2 linked regions of the Homo sapiens genome follow. The protein of the gene in region 2 purifies or fractionates together with the protein of the main gene of each other region. This does not show direct contact. Each region holds a gene or a part of one and is shown on either strand. Other genes may lie near its edges.

The links. The genes of interacting proteins can lie anywhere in the genome.
Region 1: the proteins of OSTN (region 2) and FAM107B purify together in Homo sapiens (affinity purification with mass spectrometry; one large-scale study listed by BioGRID and IntAct). This does not show direct contact.

The regions. Positions count from the first base shown.
Region 1 is NC_000010.11:14,530,107-14,535,014, reverse strand, and holds part of FAM107B (protein FAM107B), read left to right. Parts: exon of another isoform or gene 1-587; intron 588-1,546; exon of another isoform or gene 1,547-1,729; intron 1,730-2,065; exon of another isoform or gene 2,066-2,139; intron 2,140-2,300; exon of another isoform or gene 2,301-2,367; coding exon of another isoform or gene 2,368-2,428; intron 2,429-4,499; coding exon 4,500-4,683; intron 4,684-4,908.
Region 2 is NC_000003.12:191,218,612-191,224,407, forward strand, and holds part of OSTN (osteocrin precursor), read left to right. Parts: intron 1-135; coding exon 136-350; intron 351-5,796. UniProt on the Homo sapiens protein: Hormone that acts as a regulator of dendritic growth in the developing cerebral cortex in response to sensory experience. Induced in the brain following membrane depolarization and inhibits dendritic branching in neurons of the developing cortex.

The DNA of each region.
Region 1 (4,908 bases), on a different chromosome or scaffold from region 2:
TGTTGCTCAGAGAGGAAATGTACCTGGCCGCTCAACCCCACTTTCTGCACTACACCTTATGGCGGTGGAATCCAAATGGCTCAGGGACACCCTCTGTCGTTAGCCCATGCCTTTGTTACTTCATTTAAGTAATGCTTTCTGAACAGGTCCAAGGGGTCAAAAGAATAGGAACATAAACCAGACATGTTCTTTGCAGTGAAGAGAGGATAAGATTTATATCCACATTGCTATAATACAAGGCGGTGGTTGACGAATTACTAGGAAAAAAGAACAAAGAACATCCCATAGAATTTGGGAAGGCGTCAGGGCAGATGCGGCATTTATTTGGATCTGCTGGATGCGTGAGTTTGGCTTTGTGGAGATCCGGGGCTGCGGTGGGAAAAGCCTCAGCACGCCTTCGGAGGGTGCAGTGCTGCTGTAAGCATGCTGGTGGAGGGAAGGCGGGGTGTGAGGATGTGGGGAGCAAGAACATTTGTTTCAGCTTGATCGGAAGATAGGATTTGTGAGACGCAAGAGTTGCCTTATACCAGAGTTGTATTTTCCAGCGTTGGTAGCAGTGAGCAGGATGGCTGGCAGAGGGAAGAGAGCTGTGAAGAAGGTCATAGTGATGGTTATTGCCATGTGTTAGTCACAGCTCCAGGGCGGGGTGTCACTGAGAAGCAGCTGGAACCCAGATCCCACATGGTTCTCCCGCCACCACCACTGCCCTGAGTACAAAGACTCAAGGAGGGGGTTGCTCCGGCCCGTTCACCCCCTTGTTACTAAATGACCATTTCCCAGACCCCAGTGTGGCCTTTGCATGAGGAGCTGCAGGGACCATGCCACCTGTTCTGAGGACAGGCTTAAGGTCTCCATGCTTAACTCAGACTGAGAGGCTCCTGTGCACCCCCTTTTCCAGCTCCAGTTGTGAAGAAGGACAAACCAGTGAAAAAGAAGGAAGATGTTTGCCCCTGTGTTGACAGCATATACATATACTTCACCACACTGTCCCACGGAAAAACATCCTCCTGGGCTGAAATCCTAAATGCACTACACGCACTTCTGTGCAGCCACAAGTGTCTGAAAAGTCAACCGCAGCCCCCCCCTCCTGCACCGGCTCGCAGTGCCCGTGTCTCTCTAATAGGAGACAGGCTTGGGTGCCCCTCACCCCACTGGTCCTATGTGAGAAGAAAGATTTCCAAGCAACTAAATCTAAAGAGAAGTCAGAAAAACATCCCAAGCTAGGGCCTGTTTCCTAGATTCAGAACTAAAGTCATTTCATTCTGTGCACTGGAAGCTCAACCTCCCTCCTGGCAACAAGGCCCAAGTCATGTTTGCACCTCAACACTGACGTCCAGGAAAGGCTGAGTGGGCATCTTATGCTGTCTCTAGTTGAGGGGGAAGTGGGAGTGCGGGACAGAGGATGAGGGGACGGAAAGCGGAGGGCAGGCAAAGCCTGAGACTGCAGAGGGCCAGTCAGTCAGGTAAACGAGAGCGAGTCAGTCAGGTAAAGGAGAGCGAGTCACCCAGGCTTGAGCGCTGGCTGCACTTGCCCTCTCAATGTCACCTCTTTCATGTCGATCAGACGTCTCAGACTCGACACGTCCTAGATCCACTTGCTCTTTCAGCCTCCCGTCATGGCAACTTGAGCCTTCTGGTTGCTCAGGCCGGAAACCTCCAAGTCATCCTTGATTCCTCAGTGCTTTTCACGCCTCGTGTCCAGTCCTTCAGGAAGTCCCAGAGACTTTACCTTTAAAATACATCTTGAATCAGGCTCTCCGCCTACCTATGCTGCTGCTGCGTGAGTCTAAAGCATCTCTCACCTGGATGACCTTTGCATCTGCCGCCCTGCCTGCCTGCAGCCCGTTCTAAACCTGGGAGCTGGAGTAATCTTTTAACTCATGAGTCAGATACCGTCATTACTCTGCTCAGAACCTGGAAATGACTCCCCATGGCCCTCAGGGTGAAGACCAGAATGCCAGCACTGGTGTTCAAGTTCCCACGCTCTATATCCTCACCATCCCTCCCTCCCCTGCAGCCAGCCTCGCGCTTTGCCATTCCTCATCCCCCCCAGGCACCCTCCTACCCTGTGGCCTTTGCATGCGCTCTTCTCGCTGCTGATCACGGCCCGCTCTTCTGTCACATTCCCTCCAGCTCCTCCCCAAATGTAATAACGAGGTCAAGGTCAGAGGCAGTTGTCTGTTTGGGTTTGGCATCGTGGAGATTATCTATGGTGAAGGGCAGAAATACGGAGCCTTTTATGGAAGTGTGTAGCCTTCTTGGTCTATGATTAACTAGAAGGAAACTGCAGTTGATTTTTCAGACACTTGTGGCTGAGCAGAGGTGTATGTAGTGCATTTAGGATTTTGCCGAGGAGCACGTTTTTCCATGGGACAGTGTGTTGATATCAGGCTGGCTGTGATGGGTTCCCTGAGTCACCCTCTGCGAGGTTTGTAATTCTCAATTCAGTTCAGGTTGCAGGCATTCTTGTTGTTAAAAGAGCAATGCAACTAGTGTCTGAGGAATGTTTGGTGTAATTTATTATATATGCCTTACTGTTTGATAATTTTGAGCCTAATCATGGAGTGATATTTAAGATATTTAAACAAATGTTGCAGCTACATTATTTTTCAGTTGACTTAGCCTTTGGATTTTCATTCTCTTTATTTTCACATTAACTTTGTAAAGATGTTGCTTTGGTTTGGTGGACAGAACATAACACGGGGAGGTGCTGGGGGCAGGGTCATACTTTTCAGCAGGGCAGCTAGGAGGTCAGGCCTCTCTGAGAAGGTGACATTTGAGGAAAGGCCTGGAAGGATACAAGCAGGATGAAGCCCACAAGGTGCTTAAGGAAGGAGACAGTGAGCAGTGTCACAGGCCAGCGAGCACCGTGCTGAGAACTAGAAGCCTTTTCCACTGGCACAGGGTCAGCATTGATATGTTTGTAGCATAGATTGATTTGCTGAGGCTGAAGGATTAGCAGTAAAGGACCTGGGTCCGGTGCCTATTGACCAACAAGTGAAACAACAAGCACTAAAACTTAGAGAAATCGCAGTTAGATTTATTTGGAGCCAAGTTTGAGGACTTACTTAAGCCTGAGAACACAGACTCAGTGTAGACTGAGAATGGGTTCCAAAGTAAGTTATGTGAGGCGCAATATATATACGTTTCATTCCCTTTCCTTTTCTATTTTGTTTTGTTTGAGACAGAGTCTCTCTCTGTTTCCCAGGCTGAGTGCAATGGTGCGATCTCGGCTCACTGCAACCTCTTGCCTCCTGGCTTCAAGCGATTCTCCTGCCTCAGCCTCCTAAGTAGCTGGGACTACGCCACCACGCCTGGCTATTTTTTGTATTTTTAGTAGAGACAGGGTTTCATCATATTGGCCAGGCTGGTCTCAAACCCCTGGCCTCAAGTGATCTAGCCACCTTAGCCTCCCAAAGTGCTGGGGTTACATATATGAGCCACTGTGCCCAGCCTCTTTTTTTTTTTTTTTTTTCTTTTCTTTTAGAGATATGAGGTCTTGCTCTTGCTCTGTCACCCAGGCTGGAGTGCGGTGGTGCAATCATAGCCCACTGCAGCCTCTCAACTCTTGGGCTCAAGTGATTCTCCCACCTCAGCCTCCTGAGTAGCTGAGACTATAGGCATGTACCACTATGCCCAGGGCATTTCCAATGTTTTTTAAACATATGGGGTCTTGCTATGTTGCCCAGGCTGGTCTTGAGCTCCTGGCCTCAGTGATCCTCCCACAACAGCCTCCCAAAGTGCTGGGATTACAGGCATGAGCCACCTTGCTCGGCCTTGTATTTTGTAACAGGGGAATACATGTGGCACAGCGGTGGGCGAAGCAGGCAGTGAAGCAGCGGTTTCAGTCCTGTGATTGTGATTGGTGGTCACAGAGGCTGTGCATAAGATAAATAAGGTAAATATGCAGCTGAGTGGGTAGGAGAAAGGTTAGGCATCTTAGAGTCTGGTGGAGGGTGACTGATTCCATCCCGTCTTTGTTCTGTATCTGGTAAACAGATTTATGACCAATAACCATCAGTGAAATATTTAACAAACTCCAGTAAGATAGGCAAGAGGCCAGCTTTAGTTTATAGGCCCCTCTTTCCTGACACATGTGTCCAACTGCAGCCATTGTGGGCCAGTGTTCCAATTTTCATTTGAACTTTCTTTTTTTCTGACATACTCAAGTGCTTGTTCTGAGGTCGATATGGAGACAGGGTGGCAGGAAGCATCCTTTGTGACCGGAACCCAAGTTGTGGCAGTGGCAGTGATAGAAGTCAGGCCACAGGGCTCCCTGGCCTTAGTCATGGGCAAGACGAGACCAGGCCACCATTCTCTTCCCTGCCCCAGCCCAGTTACATTCCAAGCGCTTTAGAATATTTATCAGCGATGCCCCAGAGTGGACTCAGGAGGATGGCATGTGTTAGCATACTGAGCACAGCTCTGTGGGCCTCTGCATGTGTGGGAAAAGCCTTAGCAAAAACTGCAAATGAGTGTTTCTCATCTTTCTCTTTCAGACAGCCCACCTGAGGATATTGACCATAAGGACTCATATCTCATTACAAGAAGCATCATGGCCGAGCCAGACTACATAGAAGATGACAATCCTGAACTCATTAGGCCTCAGAAACTGATCAATCCTGTAAAAACCTCCCGGAACCATCAAGATCTTCACAGAGAACTTCTTATGAATCAAAAAAGGTAAAATGGTTTCTTGAGCATATTTTTTTTTTAAGAGGACTTTTAAGATCATGATATCTAATTTTAATTGTATTTACAGAGGCTTCAAAGAGTCTTTGATTTCTTGCACTTTGTTAAGGCTTTCTTATTCCTTCTCACATCCTAGAACCGGGTTACCCCTCCGTGAGGCAGATCCCCTGCAGGTGGCCATCACTGTGGTGGCCAGCAGTGCTTCCAGACTCCTGC
Region 2 (5,796 bases):
AAACTTTGTCTCAAAAAAATTGTAAGATGTTACATGATGAGTATGTCAGCTAACAGTAGCAAAAGCCAGATGCATATGTACATACTTGGAGTCTCTTTGTCTAAATTAACGGAATCGCCTTTCTCTGCCTTATAGGCCTTTGATTCTGGAGTCATAGATGTGCAGTCAACACCCACAGTCAGGGAAGAGAAATCAGCCACTGACCTGACAGCAAAACTCTTGCTTCTTGATGAATTGGTGTCCCTAGAAAATGATGTGATTGAGACAAAGAAGAAAAGGAGTTTCTCTGGTTTTGGGTCTCCCCTTGACAGACTCTCAGCTGGCTCTGTAGATCACAAAGGTAAACAGAGGTAAGTGAACTCAGAAAAAGAAAGTTTTTATTTTCTAATTATTTCCTTCTGGATTCTAAATCTGAGAGAATTCCACATGAAAAATACAGTGAAAACCTTGTATATATAAACAGATTTGACGGTATGTTAGCTAATCTGTAGGTTTAATAATACAGTTTTCTAAGTAACTGTTTAGGGAGCAAAATGACTGCCGCAGTGTGCCTTAGCATTTTTGTCATGTTTCCTAAGAAAGATTCTGTCTTATGCAGATATAAAGCAGTTATTATAAGACATTACTGCATTTGGGAGGTGGCGCAAAATGTATGCTCAGTGGCATAAATGTTCTGGTGAACTGAGTTTTCCATTTACTAGAGGTAACAGGAATACCCTTTGGTTTTTACCTGTGATGCAAACCGTTCCACATTGTGTGAATGAATCTGAGTGACAAGTTCTCAGAACGTGGAGTCAGAACGCATGTGTTTCTGTCAAATTTCTGTTTCTTCCTATGTGACTTGTAAAGTATCTTATCCTCTCTGATCCTCAGCTTATTTATGCATAAAGTGAGAATAATTACTTGCTTCCATAAAATTCAAATGAGATAATCAAATGTAAGTGCTTCATAGAATGCTAATTACGGATTTAGAGTAGTGAAATATCCCTTTATGTCAGTAATTTAAAGTAATCATTCCAAACTTAGTTCATTTTCTACCCCTTCAATATCTGTTCTTCATACTGTACATTTCATATTAGAAGTGGCACAAAAGACCACACAAGTACCATAGACAGGAATCTGGGAAATTGACCAAGATTCCTTTAGCTCATCCTGAACATTTCTCACTAAATTCTCTAAATACTGTTTGCTTTACATATTAAATATCTCCAGAATATCACTCTTCATTAAGGCTTTTCTAATTCTGGCCTAAATTATTAAATTTTTTTAACATTTATTCTTTCTCCACTCTTTCCTCATCTCTACCTCCACCACCATCATCACCCCTTTATCACCAACGTATCCTGTACTCGGCTAGCAGGCTAATCATCTAAAACAAAAGTCTGTGTGAAATGTTATCCATTGCTTACAGTACAAAAGTCAAACTCCTTTGCAAGAGCTACAGGGAATTTCATAATCTGGAACCTCATTTCTTCTTGTACTCATTTTCACATCCTTTGCCACCATCTTTCTTAATTCTTAGAGACCTGGGACTTTTCATTCTTGTTCCTGGTTCCCTGGTTTTTTATGCTAAATGATTATCAGGATACTTGTCGCAATTTGCTATACCTCTGTTCTGAAAGATTCTCAAAGCTACACTAGAAAATAAAATCATCATTTGAAGACCATACCTTATACTACATGTATGTGAAAAATAATCCTCTCCTATATTTTGAAATTTAGACCCTACTTTAACTAGAGAAATAGAAATTAGTTCCACTATGTTCTGGGTACTATGTTAGGTTCTGGTGAAAAAGAGGAGAAAAATATAGTTTACATACCTCAAAAAAAATCACATACTAATTGATAACATAGTATTATTTATAACAAATTGTAATACAAGAAATGATGAAGAGAAAAGAGAATGCTAGTACACTGTTAGTGGGAATGTAAATTAGTATAACAACTATAGAGAACAGTTTAGAGGTTCCTCAGAAAACTAAAAATTGAGCTACCGTATGTTCCAGCACCACCACTGCTGGGTAAGTATATCAAAAATAAATATATGTTTAAAAACTAATCTAAAAAGAAGAACATCGGCATCCAAAGAATAGTTGAGCTTTTAGAGAAGAAAATATGGTGCCTTCTAATAAATGTTATTTATTTGGCTCCTGGATATTTCAACATGGTCAACTAAATAATCTATAAATCAATATATAAATGCTGTACATAAATATTTATAAATTTATTATAGCATAAATACTATAGTATACTAAATATACACTGCGTAAATACTATATAATTTACATTGAAACTTCACCACATGATATGGTTTGGCTGTGTCCCCATTGAAATCTCATCTTGAATTGTAGTTCCCATCATCTCCATGTATCATAGGAGGGACCCAGGGGAAGGTAATTGATCATGGGTGTGGTTACCCCCGTGCTGAAGTTCCTGTGATAGTCAGTGAGTTCTCACGAGATCTGATGGCTTTATAAGAGGCGTTCTCCCTTTCGCTCTGCTCTTCTCCTTGCTGCCACCATGTGGAGAAGGACATGTTTATTTCCCCTTCTGCCATGATTGTAAGTTTCCTAAGGTCTCCCCAGCCCTGTGGAACTGTGAGTCAATTAAACCGCTTTCCTTTATAAATTTCCCAGTCTCAGGTATGTCCTTCATACCAACATAAGAACAGGTACCACAGAGAGTGGGGTGCTGCTATAAAGACACCTGAAAATGTGGAAGCAACTTTAGAACTGGGTAACAGGCAGAGGTTGGAACAGTTTGGAGGGCTCAGAAGAAGATAGGATAATATGGGAAAGTTTGGAACTTCCTAGAGACTTGTTGAATGATTTTAGCCAAAATGCTGATAGTGATGTGGTCAATGAAGTCCAGGCTGAGGTGGTCTCAGGTGGAGATGAGGAACTTGTTGGGAAATGAATTAAAGGTCACTCTTGCAATGCAAAGAGATTGATAGCATTTTGCCCCTGCCCTAGAGGTCTGAGGAACTTTGAACTTGAGAGAGATGATTTAGGGTATCTAGTGGAAGAAATTTCTAAATGGCAAAGTGTTCAAGAGGAAGCAGGGCATAAAAGTTTGAAAAATTTGCAGCCTGATGATGCAGTAGAAAAGAAAAACCCATTTTCTGGGGAGAAATTTAATCCAGCAGCAGAAATGTACATGAATAACTAGAAGCAAAATGCTAATCACCAAGCCAATGGGGAAAATATCTCCAGGGCATGTCAGAAGTCTTCACAGCAGCCCCTCCCATCACAGAGCCATAGGCCTAGGAGGGATAAATGGTTTCTTGGGCCAGGTCCAGGAACCTGCACTTGGTAACCTGCTTCCCAGCCACTCCAGCCTTGGCTAAAAAGGGCCAAAGTATAACTGGGGCCATGGTTTCAGAGGGTGCAAGCCCCAAGCCTTGGCGGCTTCCACATGCTGTTTTACCTATGGGTGCACAGAAGGCAAGAATTGAGGTTCGCCAACTTCCACCTAGATTTTAGAGGATGTGTGGAAATACTGGATGCCCAGGCAGATGTTTGCTGCAGGGGCAGAGCCCTCATGAAGAACCACTACTAGGGCAGTGCAGAAGGGAAATTTTGGGTTGGAGCTCCCACATAGAGTCCCCACTGCCTAGTAGTGTTGTGAAAAGAGGGCCACCATCCTGCAGACCCCAGAATGGTAGATCTTTTGCTGTGCACCTGGAAAAGCCACAGACATTCAACACCAGCTCGTGAAAGCAGCCAAGAGGGGATGACCTGGATGTGAGACATGAAGTCAAAGGAGATTAATTTGGAGCTTTAAGAATTTACTGCCCCACTGGATTTCAGACTTGCATGGGGCCTGTAGCCCCTTCATTTTGACCAATGTCTCCTATTTGGAACAGGTGTATTTACCCAATGCCTGTCCCCCCACATTGTATCTAGGAAGTAACTAATTTGCTTTTGATTTTCAGGCTCATAGGCAGAAGAGAACTGCCTTGTCTCAAATGAACTTTGGACTTGGACTTTTAGGTTAATGCTGGAATGAGTTAAGATTTTGTGGGACTGCTGGGAAGGGATGATCATGTTTTGAAATGGGAAGATATGAGATTTGGGAGGGGCCAGGGATGGAATTATATGGTTTGTCTGTGTCCCCATCCAAATGTTGTCTTGAATTTTAGTTCCCATGATCCCCTCGTGTTATGGGAAGGACCAGTGGGAGGTAATTGAATCATGGGGGTGGCTACCCCCATGCTGCTGTTCTCATGAGAGTGAGTGAGTTCTCATGAGATCTGATGATTTTATAAAAGGCTTTCCCTCCCTTTTGCTCTGCACTTCTTGCTGCCACCACGTGAAGAAGGATGTGTTTGCTTCTCCTTCTACCATGATTGTAAGTTTCCTGAGGCTTCCCCAGCCCTGTGGGGAATTAAAATTAAATTAATTTAAATTTAAAATTAAATTAAAATTCTTTCCTTTATGAATTACCCAGTCTCAGGTATGTCCTTCATAGCAGTGTGAGAATGGACTAATAAACCATAATAATTTCTTTAGAAAGTACCATAATGAGAAACTACCTAGGTGATATAATCTATCTAGCTAGCTATCAAATATAGCTCAGCTTGCAAGAAAAAAGGGGAAATTAGCAAGCGTTTAATAGCCATCTGAACAGATTTTCACGTATGAAAGCTACAAATAAGCCATTATAAATATGCAAAAATTTAGGGAATATTCCTTCCATGAGCATATCCTGAGGAAGCTAATACATGAGTTACCTTGGGCAAGCCAAATGGCTGGGGAGATATCACCATTAGAATTAGGTGTGAGCATTAACTTTAAAAGCAAAGTAAAATGATGGTAGCAAGAAAGAGAATGTGTTATAGTACACGGTTTGAAAAAACAGATACAGCACAACCATCAAACTTTCAGGTAAAACGTGATAGTACATAAAATTTGGAATGAGTATTTGATTGCTTCACGGCTATTAACTGAAAATAAAAAATTATTACAACAAATAGATGCTTGGGGACTGAAGAAGAAAGAAAACATTACAAACTGAATTTTATAAATCTTGTACTAAATAACAATAGACAAAAACTGAAAACAGAGAGGTGCAAGATTATTATATAAAAATATTAATACAAAAATAATCATAAGAATAAAAACTAAAATTTCTCTATGAAAAAAAGCACGATAAAATAGAATACAGAGAAATCCTGTATGTAATAAACTCATATGTAAGTTTTAAAATATGATTTAAAAATCTATTATATCAATAAATGTGGATGGCTATAACTTGCCTATTAAAATGCCAGTGTTTTCAGACTTGCTGATAAAGGAAAATAAAATACTTTTCTGTATTTGAGAGATGCAATTAAAAATAACAAGATTTAGGATGGATAATAGTAAAAGAATGAACAAACGATACCAGAAAAAAAAATAACTTAAAAATGAAAAACAGTGCAACATCATTTACCAAAGAGAAACTACAAAGAATGCCAGAAAATAGAAAGAAATGTATTAATAAGGCCGGGCACCATGACTCATGCCTGTAATCCCAGCACTTTGGGATGCTGAGGCGGGCAGATCACCTGAGGTCGGGAGTTGGATGCCAGCCTGACCGACATGGAAAAACCCCGTCTCTACTAAGAATACAAAATTAGCCAACCATGGTGGTGCATGCCTGTAATCCCAGCTACTTGGGAGGCTGAGGCAGGAGAATCACTTGAGAATGGCAGCAGAGGTTGCAGTGAGCCAAGATCTCACCATTGCACTCCAGCCTGGGCAACAAGAGTGAAACTCCATCTCAGAAAAAAAAAAAAAAAAGAAACATATTAAT